Linked DNA regions of Homo sapiens: region 1 is linked to region 2. Evidence: fine-mapped expression QTL. Tissue or cell type: whole blood. Region 2 holds a variant in brackets; the other region holds the start of a gene. All regions are shown on one strand. Distances are from middle to middle.

The links. PIP is the estimated chance that this variant, and not a neighbour inherited with it, causes the effect.
Region 1: PDLIM7 starts here. The variant in region 2 is fine-mapped to the expression of PDLIM7 in whole blood (TOPMed, PIP above 0.99).

What each region holds. Positions count from the first base shown.
Region 1 is chr5:177,494,502-177,499,606 of GRCh38, forward strand. PDLIM7 (PDZ and LIM domain 7) reads right to left here and starts at 3,103. Exons shown (of 13, transcript NM_005451.5): 1 at 3,027-3,103; 2 at 1,916-2,022. The coding sequence starts at 2,011. RefSeq lists silencers at 211-360, 307-601, 2,299-2,378, 2,789-3,498 and enhancers at 1,755-2,496, 3,709-3,758, 3,977-4,716.
Region 2 is chr5:176,877,106-176,882,289 of GRCh38, forward strand. UNC5A (unc-5 netrin receptor A) reads left to right here. Exons shown (of 15, transcript NM_133369.3): 9 at 87-174; 10 at 430-598; 11 at 789-1,022; 12 at 1,139-1,288; 13 at 1,370-1,534; 14 at 2,205-2,383; 15 at 2,616-3,793. The coding sequence ends at 2,781. It overlaps HK3 (hexokinase 3), which reads right to left. Exons shown (of 19, transcript NM_002115.3): 16 at 4,839-5,022; 17 at 4,587-4,742; 18 at 4,197-4,430; 19 at 3,764-4,112. The coding sequence ends at 3,968. Among named protein-coding and RNA genes, the nearest start is that of HK3, 20 kb to the right of the region's middle. RefSeq lists a silencer at 2,850-3,215. The variant C/G (reference allele first, on the strand shown) is at 2,195.

The sequences.
Region 1 (5,105 bases), 620 kb after region 2:
GCTGTGGGCTGAGCCCGAGGTGGGGGTCTTGGGGTGCAGCTAGCTGGCTCCTGGAGAGGGGGTGGGGGGCGGGGACGGCTTCCCTTCCCAGAGTGAGGAGGGCAGGAAGCACAGAGGATGAGGGGTGTTCAGAGCGTGGGGAGGGCAGCAGGAGAGCAGAAGACAGCGCTGGGCGGGTGGCTGGAGAGAGGCAGGGAGGGGCTCAAGCCAGGGGCAGGGTAAGGCCAGAGGAACCAAGGAGGGAAAAAGCCAGGGGGCTGGACCCTGCATGAGGTGGGGGTGAGTCAGCCTGAGCAGCCCAGCCCCCCAGTCCCAGACGTTACCTCATCTCCCAGGCCTGGGCCCACAGCCAGCCCTTGCCCCTCCCACCTCCCTCCATTCTGGGGTCAGGGGAGGGGGAGGGGGCTGGCCTAACTCAGAAAAGCCCACCTCACCCACCCATGTGGGCCCAGGTCCAACTCCAGGGCTGGGATCAGCTAGTGGCCCCGCCCACATGCCAGGGATGCTGACCAGGGAGCTGGAGCCCGGAGTGCCCCCAACAGGCCATATCTGAAAGTCATCTCCATCAGGGAAGAAACTGAGGTTCAGGCTCCCCAGACACACTGGGCCAGCACTTTCCCAGGGAGCAGGACGTCAGGTAGGTTTCAGGGCTGTGTGAGGGCTATGTAGTGGGACGTGTGTCATAGGGCAACCACTGCCTCACTACCCTGCTGGCGGGGCAGGTTCCAGGAGAATGCCATCAAAGGACCCCTGAGAAGAGCACTGCTGGCCTGCCCACCCTAACCCCCACGCCCAGCTCCTACAGACAGACTCCAGCTTGAGCCCCTCCTCAGGCCACGACCCTCTGGGCCCCTCCAGGCTGGGCTTGCCTTGGGCTTCCTGACAACAGCTGCCTGCCCACCCGGCGCCTGGGTGGGTCTCTTGGGGCAGGCGGATATAGGGGCAGGAAGTCCCCACCCCCTCCTGACCCCCAGGCCAGTCAGAGATGCCAGCCGACAGGCTGGCCTCACCCACTCTGGGCAGGCAATTTGTTGTGTCTCACAACTGGACCATATAGCTGGAGCTGCAGCCTGGTGACCAGCTGAGAGGCCCACCAGTGGGGTTCAGGGGGCCAGGCCTAGGCCAGCCCTTTTCAGCTCTGCAGACCGCAGCCACTGTTGGCCATCCCAGCGTGGGGCTGCATTCTTGGGCTTATAAGGCAATCCCCCTGCTACAGGGAGGAGCCAGCCTCCAGCTCCACCCACACCAGGGCAGGCTCTTGGAAGCTGAAGTTAAGCCCCTAGAATGGAGCCCTGTCCTACACTTCTGCTTGGGGTCAAAGGCCACCACATCCTGAATGGGAACAGTGGATGTGGGTCCTTACATAGGCTGGGGAGAGACCCCTTCTACCCACAAAAAATGTACGCCATGCTGTGCCTCAATTCCAATCCCTGCTTCACCATGGACTCGATGAGCGAGCCCCGCCACCTCTCCATGAGTTCTTCTCTCATCTGGAAAAACGGGATGAGGATTGCTATTCCCTGGGCGGCAGTGAGGCTGAAGTGAAATCCTATAGTCACAGTGTCCTGCCTGGGGCCTGGCTCCAAGCATTGCCACCTCAAGTTTAGATACCTCCTGAAATGTTAGGCTCCCATCCTGCACAATGAGCCTCCCTCCAGCCCTCAGAGGTGGCCACAGGAGCTTGGGAGAACAGCATCGGGTACAGTGCAGGGCTGGAGAAGCCTGGGTGCTCCCTCCCAGTATCCACCTCATTGGGAGTCCTTGTGGCAGGCAGGTACCACTACATCTCCGGACCTAGACATCTCCTGGCCTGCTGGCCCCTGACCAGCTCCTGTTAGGACTCCCCCCATCACCCTCTGGAGACCTAAGCACCGAAAGACCGCTGGGGGAGCCCCCTCCCCAAACCTAGGCTCACCCGGGAAATGGAGAGGGGCACATTGAAGTCCTTGCCCCCTTGCAGCCGGAAGCCCCAAGGTGCTGGCCCCTCCAGCACTACTTTGAAGGAATCCATGATGCCGGCTCCTGAGAGGAGAGAAGAGAAGGTGAGTGGCCAGCATGGTGGGCGGGCAGGCAGGCAGGCCGGGCCAGCTCAGGATACCAGCCTTGGACAGGGGCCAGGCAGGCACGGGCAGCCCCTGAGCACGCCCAAGCCATAGGAGGCAGGTATTTTGTCAGGCTGGCCTGGGCTGCTGGCTGGCGGACCTCACTTTGGAAAGACAGGAGCAGCCCCCCTCCCCTTGGGACTGGAACGGTGAGGGGTGCCTGAATCCAGGCTTGAGGTTCTTTGCAACCAGGGGTGGGCCGAGGGACTAAACTGGCGCGGCCTCCCCCCAAGCCAGCCTGGAGCCTCGGGCGGCCGGGTGAGTCAGGGGCCGGCTCTCCTCTCCCCCGCCCCCAGGTCCCGGCAGGCAGGCCGCGGCTGGAGCCTGCTCGGACTATATAAGGCGTGTAAGCTGACACTGTGCGGAGAGCCAGCGGAGGGAGCACACGGGGGCTTGGGACGCGAGGGGGGGGGGAGGGGAGGGGAGGGGAGGGGAGGGGAGGGAGGCGGCTGCAGCGGATCCTCCTAGCCATTCCGGGACCAGTCGAGGCTGCTGGGAGCCAGGGCGGGACCCCTGGGTGCTGAAGAAGGGGAAGGCGGGAGTGGGGTGCGGCCCCTGTGGAGACAGATGGGGGCTGGGACCCTCAAGCATAGCTTGGAGGGGGATCCTTCCCCGAGCCCAGTGGGGGGTGGTGCCTCCCACACAGAACTGCTCCCACACCGACGTGACTCAGTTTCCCCTTAGTCCCCCGCCCGGGCCCCATGCATTAGACTGGCCCCGGCCGCAGGAAGCGGCGCAGGCGCCAATCGGCCCCGCCGCAGCCGGCTTAGCGGCAGGAAGGCGGGGGCGGGGGCGGAGGCAGGGGCCAGGGCCAGCGGGAGGAAGCACAGCCTGGACCACGACCCCCAGTGCCCTTTGTGGTCCTCAGCAGGCCCCGGGCGCCCGCCTGGTGCAGCCCAAGACGCCCCGCGCGGTCGTCGATACCTGCTTGGCCCGGCCAGGGCGCTGCTCTGCGTCGGGCTCCAGGGAGCCTCGTTGGGATCGGCCGCCAGTGTTCTGACCCCGCCCCCACAGCCACCCTCCACTTTGAGCGCGCGGACGGGGGCGGGGCACCAGGCCACGCCCTCGTCGCGACCACGCCCACTAGACTTTCTCCGCTGGTGGAAAGCCCCACCCAGCTCTTCCGTCCTGCCCAATCACCAAGTCCCGTCGGGCTTAGAGCTGAGAGGCCTCGCCGACCCGGGCCCTGCAACGGGGCGGAGTCGGGAGGGGGCCGGGGCTGCGGGTCGCCTCCTTAGGGAAGCGCTGCCTCGCCCAGTCCCTCGCACCGCCCGCTGGCGGAGGGAGAGGAAAGCGGACCTTCAAACCAGACCGACCTGGGACATAGTAGTCTCTGAACCTTAGTTTGCTACTCCGAAAAATGGGACGATCATACTCGCCTCGCAGGGCTGCCGCGAGTGTCGGTATCGTAGGCGCAACCCTCGGGGACTGCAGAATCTGTAAATCAGAGGGGCTGGGGGAGACAAGTTGAGGGGGACAGGGGCGTTTAAAGCTAGAGTTGCGCAACGCTCTGCCGAAGGCAGGAAAACAGGGCAGGAGCGGACGCCGGATGTCCCTGCAACCCCGAGCCGACCCGCGCACCGTCGGAAGCGCCGCGTCCCGCTCCACCTTGGCCAGAGCGGACTGCGCCGCCTGGGAGGCGTCCTCAGAGTCCCGGCCCCGCGTTCAGCCCAGGCACTAGGGCCGGCGGCACGGACACTGAGCACATGCGGGTGTCGGGGTGAGGGAAGGGGCGTCCACCCTCCACTCGCTTGGTGGTCCCGGCCCATCACCTCCTCCTAGGACAGAGTCGCTGCAGTTCTCCCCTCTCCATCCACAGTCATCACACCCACCCTGTTCTGCACAAACCGCCGTGAGAGTTCTCGTCGTTAAAGACCTTCTCTTGACCCCACATCCCTCTCCAGCTACTACCCTTTAATTCTCCTCTCGAGAGTAAAATTCCTCCAGGGAGTTGTCTGTTTATCGCGTCTCCACTTGCTTTCCTTCAGTTATCTCTTGAAGCCATGCCAGGCGGGCTCTTGTCCGCACCCGTCCCCTGAGATCTCTCTTCTCAAGGTCCCCTGTGGCCTGGAGGCCATGGGGCCATGGAATCCGTGGTGGTTAAGTTTCATCCTGCCCTGCCTAGGGGCAGCACTGGTCCAGGTTGATCCTTTTCCGCGAAACACCCTTTTTCCCTGGCTTCACAGCTTCCCCCTGCCCCACTGGCCCCTCCTTCCCATCCTCCTCTGCCTCTGGCCTTGGCCATCTGATGTCGCCTCTCTTTATGCTCACCCCCTGAGACCCCGTACTGTCCTGTGGCTTTCAACACCACCTATATGCAAAGGCATCCCATGTTTCATGGCCAGCCTGACCTCTCCCCAGGAACTCTAACTCCATTATCCAAAACCCTGCCTAGATGTTTACTAGATCAGGGGTCCCCAACTCCCCGTTTGTGGCCTGTTAGGAACTGGGCTGCACAGCAGAAGGTGAGCAGCGGCAAGCCAGAGAAGCTGAGTGCAGCGGCAGCATTAGACTCCCATAGGAGCGTGAACCCTATTGTGAACTGTGCATGCGAGGGATCTAGGTTGCTCATTCCTTATGAGAATCTAATGATAAATGGGCCGGGTGCAGTGGTTCACGCCTGTAACCCCAGCACTTTGGGAGGTTGAGGCGGGGGAGGATCACTTGAGGTCAGGAGTTCGAGACCATCCTGGCCAATATGGTGAAACCCCGTCTCTACTAAAAATACAAAAATTAGCTGGGCGTGGTGGCGCATATGCCTATAATCCCAGCTACTTGAGAGGCTGAGGCAGGAGAATGACTTGAACCTGGGCAGCAGAGGTTGTAGTGAGCCAAGATGGCTCCACTGCACTCCAGTGTGGGTGACAGAGCGAGACTCTATCTCAAAAAAAAAAAAAAAAAAAGAGTCTAATGATAAATGTACTGCACTCGAACCACCCTGAAACCATCCCCACCCCACCCCCAGTCTGTGGAAAAATTGTCTTCCATGAAAGCGGTCCCTTC
Region 2 (5,184 bases):
ACAGGAAGGCTCCTGGAGGGGCTGTGTGGTGGGGTGTTGGGTGCTTTGGCAGTGGGTAAGCCCTGGCCCTCTTCCTGCCGTTCCAGGAATCAGCCTCCTCATCCCCCCAGATGCCATACCCCGAGGGAAGATCTATGAGATCTACCTCACGCTGCACAAGCCGGAAGACGTGAGGTGTGGCCGCGGGCCCTGTTGCCGGGGGTGGGAGGGACCTGCCTGCTGCCTTCGGTCCCCAGGAAGCCCCCTGCCCACCCACTGTTGTGCCTGGCCCGAGGCGGCGGGGGAAAGAGCTATGCCTAAGCCCCACGTGGTCCTGCAGCCCAAGCCCCTGGCCCCTGGGATGCTGCTGCCCTGCCCTTGGCCTAGCCCTCAGGACCCAGGATGGGCCACTGACACCTTTCCCTCCCCACCCATATTTCCCCACTTGAGGTTGCCCCTAGCTGGCTGTCAGACCCTGCTGAGTCCCATCGTTAGCTGTGGACCCCCTGGCGTCCTGCTCACCCGGCCAGTCATCCTGGCTATGGACCACTGTGGGGAGCCCAGCCCTGACAGCTGGAGCCTGCGCCTCAAAAAGCAGTCGTGCGAGGGCAGCTGGGAGGTGAGCAGGGAACTGACCCGGGCTCCAGAAGGGAACGTGGGCTAACTGCACGCTCCACCCGGCCTTCCACCGCTGGGTGGTCCTGAGCCGCACCCCCACCCCTCCCCAGTCTCCGGCCACTTCTTGAAGCCACAGCTGGCCCTAGGGCTCTGAGGCTGGGCCGAATTGACCCACTGACCCCTGCCCACAGGATGTGCTGCACCTGGGCGAGGAGGCGCCCTCCCACCTCTACTACTGCCAGCTGGAGGCCAGTGCCTGCTACGTCTTCACCGAGCAGCTGGGCCGCTTTGCCCTGGTGGGAGAGGCCCTCAGCGTGGCTGCCGCCAAGCGCCTCAAGCTGCTTCTGTTTGCGCCGGTGGCCTGCACCTCCCTCGAGTACAACATCCGGGTCTACTGCCTGCATGACACCCACGATGCACTCAAGGTATCTCCCGCCCCTCACCCCCCGCCGCTGGGAGGCCGAGCTATGCCTGGCCCTGTGGACTGCCTGCCTTGGGCGCAGTGGGGAGGGGCCTGGGCTGACCACCTGGGGCACTGCAGGAGGTGGTGCAGCTGGAGAAGCAGCTGGGGGGACAGCTGATCCAGGAGCCACGGGTCCTGCACTTCAAGGACAGTTACCACAACCTGCGCCTATCCATCCACGATGTGCCCAGCTCCCTGTGGAAGAGTAAGCTCCTTGTCAGCTACCAGGTGAGGGCCAGGGCCGTGGCCAGCGCACAAGAGGCCTGGAGCTTGGGCTCACCTGACACCTCCTCTCTGCATCCCCATCAGGAGATCCCCTTTTATCACATCTGGAATGGCACGCAGCGGTACTTGCACTGCACCTTCACCCTGGAGCGTGTCAGCCCCAGCACTAGTGACCTGGCCTGCAAGCTGTGGGTGTGGCAGGTGGAGGGCGACGGGCAGAGCTTCAGCATCAACTTCAACATCACCAAGGTGGACGGGAGGGGCTGCCGCACCGCCGTGACGTGCTCCCACTACCAACTCCCCACCAGCCCCCAAAACGCTCCTGCCCTGCCTGCCCTGCCACCCACTCTCCCTCCCGCCTGTCCCCAGGCCCACCTCCTCCTAGAAACCCCTTGGCAGCTTCCTCCCAGACTCAGAGACAGGGAGGCACAGGTGCAAATGGGACTTGGGGAGGGGAGTGCAGGGGACATGGGAGCAGCAGGAGGGGAGACCCTGGAGGGCTTCCCTGAGGAGGGGCTTTGTACTGGGCCCCAAAGAATGAGCCAGTTTGGCTGCGGCATTAAGGGGAAGAGCATTTCTGGCGGTGAGAGCTGGGCAGGGGGGACTCAGGCCGTGAAGAGAGCTGTGTGTGTTGAGTGTCAGCAGAGGCTGGGCAGAGTGACTTGGAGGGGAGAAGGGCGGAGAGGGAGGGAGGCCACAGAGGGCTCCTCTGCTCTCTGGCTATGTGGCTTTGGGCAGGTCGCTGCACCTCCGAGCCCCAGTAAGAAGGGCCTTGGCACATGGGAGGTGCCCAGGAAGTACCAGTGCTCATGCCGCCCCCATGCTCTGGGGGAGTCTGGGAGCTCCCCCAGCAGGAGGTGGCGGTGGACCCGGGCCTGGGGAAAGTTCTAACAGGCACCTCTTTCCCTC[C/G]CACCTCCAGGACACAAGGTTTGCTGAGCTGCTGGCTCTGGAGAGTGAAGCGGGGGTCCCAGCCCTGGTGGGCCCCAGTGCCTTCAAGATCCCCTTCCTCATTCGGCAGAAGATAATTTCCAGCCTGGACCCACCCTGTAGGCGGGGTGCCGACTGGCGGACTCTGGCCCAGAAACTCCACCTGGACAGGTGGGCGGGAGAGGGGCAGAGAGGGCCTGCGCAGGCCACCGACAGTCCTGCCCGGCGGCGGGGTGGGTGAGGTGGACAGGAGGCCCTGTGGGGCCTGTGCCGCATCTACTAGTGGCCGGGGCAGTCATTGTGTTTGGCTTCGGGGAGGCCCTGCCCTGGGGTGGGCCAGGGGGGGCAGGAGGTGTCGGCTGGGGCCAGGCCAGGCTGCTGACGGCCCCCCTCCCCTCCACAGCCATCTCAGCTTCTTTGCCTCCAAGCCCAGCCCCACAGCCATGATCCTCAACCTGTGGGAGGCGCGGCACTTCCCCAACGGCAACCTCAGCCAGCTGGCTGCAGCAGTGGCTGGACTGGGCCAGCCAGACGCTGGCCTCTTCACAGTGTCGGAGGCTGAGTGCTGAGGCCGGCCAGGCCCGACACCTACACTCTCACCAGCTTTGGCACCCACCAAGGACAGGCAGAAGCCGGACAGGGGCCCTTCCCCACACCGGGGAGAGCTGCTCGGACAGGCCCCCTCCCGGCCGAAGCTGTCCCTTAATGCTGGTCCTTCAGACCCTGCCCGAACTCCCACCTCTCCATGGCCTGCCTAGCCAGGCTGGCACTGCCACTCACACTCGGCCCCAGGGCCCAGGAGGGACAGTGCCTGGAGCCTGGGCCAGGCCCAGCCCATCTGTGTGTGTGTATGTGCGTGTGATGCTACCTCTCCTCCCGTCCCTCTCCAGGGGCCCCGCATACACACGGCCATGCACGCACACACTGGGCCTGGGCCAGGGCCCCAGAGCTCCTGCCTGAGCTGGACCTTATGCAAACATTTCTGTGCCTGCTGGGTAGGGGCACGTCTGAGGGGCCCTGCTCCAAGCCTGCAGGACCGAGGGCCACAGCCGGACAGGGGGTAGCCCCTGGATTCAGGCACACGACCACCACACGAGCACGTGCCACGCATGCCTCGTGTGCTCATCTCACACACACCCCCCTCCCGGGTCACGCAGACACCCCCCAACCACACACATCTCATGCTGTACACCTGAGGCTGCTCACGTCTCACGCCCAGTGTTGGTGCACATTTGCCTCTCACATGCTGCCCTCTCCACCCACCCAGGGACACCCCACGGCTCCTCCCTGCCCCTGCCCCTCCCCCAGCCTTGAGGTGCCCTGCCCGGCGGGGCCTGTGAATATGCAATGGGAGTCCCAGGCTGTACAGTGGTGAGTGTGTGTGTGGCGTGGCGTGCCCGTCCCCAGGGCTGGCTGGTGCCCCACGCGGGGCCTGTCATGTGAAGCTCGTGTCCTGACTTTGTCTTAAGTGCATTCACGCACTTACTCTTGGCCTTATGTACACAGCCTTGCCCGGCCGCCGGGGCACATAGGGGTTTTATCGGGCGTGAATGTAAATAAATTATATATATATATTGCTAACCTGAGTGCTACTTCTCTCAGGGAAAGCCAGGGAGCAAGGCCAAATGGCCGCAGAGGGGTCACACATGGGATGTCCCAGGAGTCCTGGGTGGCTGGGCCTGGCTGGGAAACAGGCAGACCCCGACCCGGCTCCAGCAAGGCTGCGGCGGAGACCTCCTCAGCCTGGAGGTTTCCTCAGACACGAGTCAACTGCGCAAGGCGGCAGGCAACAGCGGTGACCAGGGCCGCACCTTTGCCGGACCCATCCTCTGACTGCAGGAACGTGACCACACAGCGAGGGGCCAGCTCCCGCACTGTGGCCGCCACCAGGCTGGAGAAGCTGTGAGAGGAGGGCTGAGGTGAGCCCAGGCCACCAGCCCCACCTGGCCACACCTCCCTCCCCAGCCCGCACACCCAGACTCACCGCGGGTGCAGCTTGTAGAGCGTTCCATCCACCCCCACAGACACTGCCAGCTCTTCCAGGCCCCGGTTCTCCCGGATCTTCTCCACCACGGCAGCTACACCCGCCCCACAGAGCTGGGCAGCCCTCTGGGACACAGCCTGGCACACCTCTAGCACCATCAGGGCGTCATCTGAGGTCAGGGGTAGCCCCAGATCCTCTAGGATGGCTCGGACCTGCCGCAGGGCCAGGCTGTCACTGGGGGCCAGGAAGGAAGAGAGCACAGGGAGGTGGGTCGTGACTTCTCCCACTTCATCCTCCAGAGCAGACCTCGTCACCACCCATGGCCAGCAATCCCCCACAGTGGACAGAAAGACCCCCTGAAGTGGGGGAGGCAATGTAGGCCTCAGGCACCTTTCGATCTCAGAGAGGAACTTGGTCTTGAAGATGTCCCTGGTCTGAAGGCGCTGGATCTGCTGGCCCCGGAAGAGAACGCCAAGGCTGGTTAAATGTAAAAGGATGTGGCGGACGATCTCCCCCAGGTACATGCCGCTGATCATCTTTTCAAACCTGCATGAACATGTGTGCACTCGGCAGAAGGCCCCACCAGCCACCATCCCCAGCACCGGTCACAGCCAGCCACCACTGCCTGGGCCCAGCCCACACCTCTGCTTGCCGGGGTTGATGGACGCCTGGTCCACACTTGCATCAAAGCGGGTGCTGAGCATGGCCAGAGAGCCATCGTCCCCAAAGGCGCCCCACTCCATGTTGATGCACATGCGGCCTGAGTCCCCAGGCACGCCCGCCACATTCCGGAGCTCCTCCATGTAGCAGGCATTGGTGCCGGTTCCTGCAGAGAGGCCAGACAACGTGGAAGCTACTTACTGATGTAGACAAGGACCCTCTGAGCACTTCCCATACCGAGATGGCAACGATTCGGGCTCACTCTCTCTACCTCTCATGCTCACAGCCTGTCCCTGGTCCTGGTCCTTCTTCCTTCCCGACATCCCTC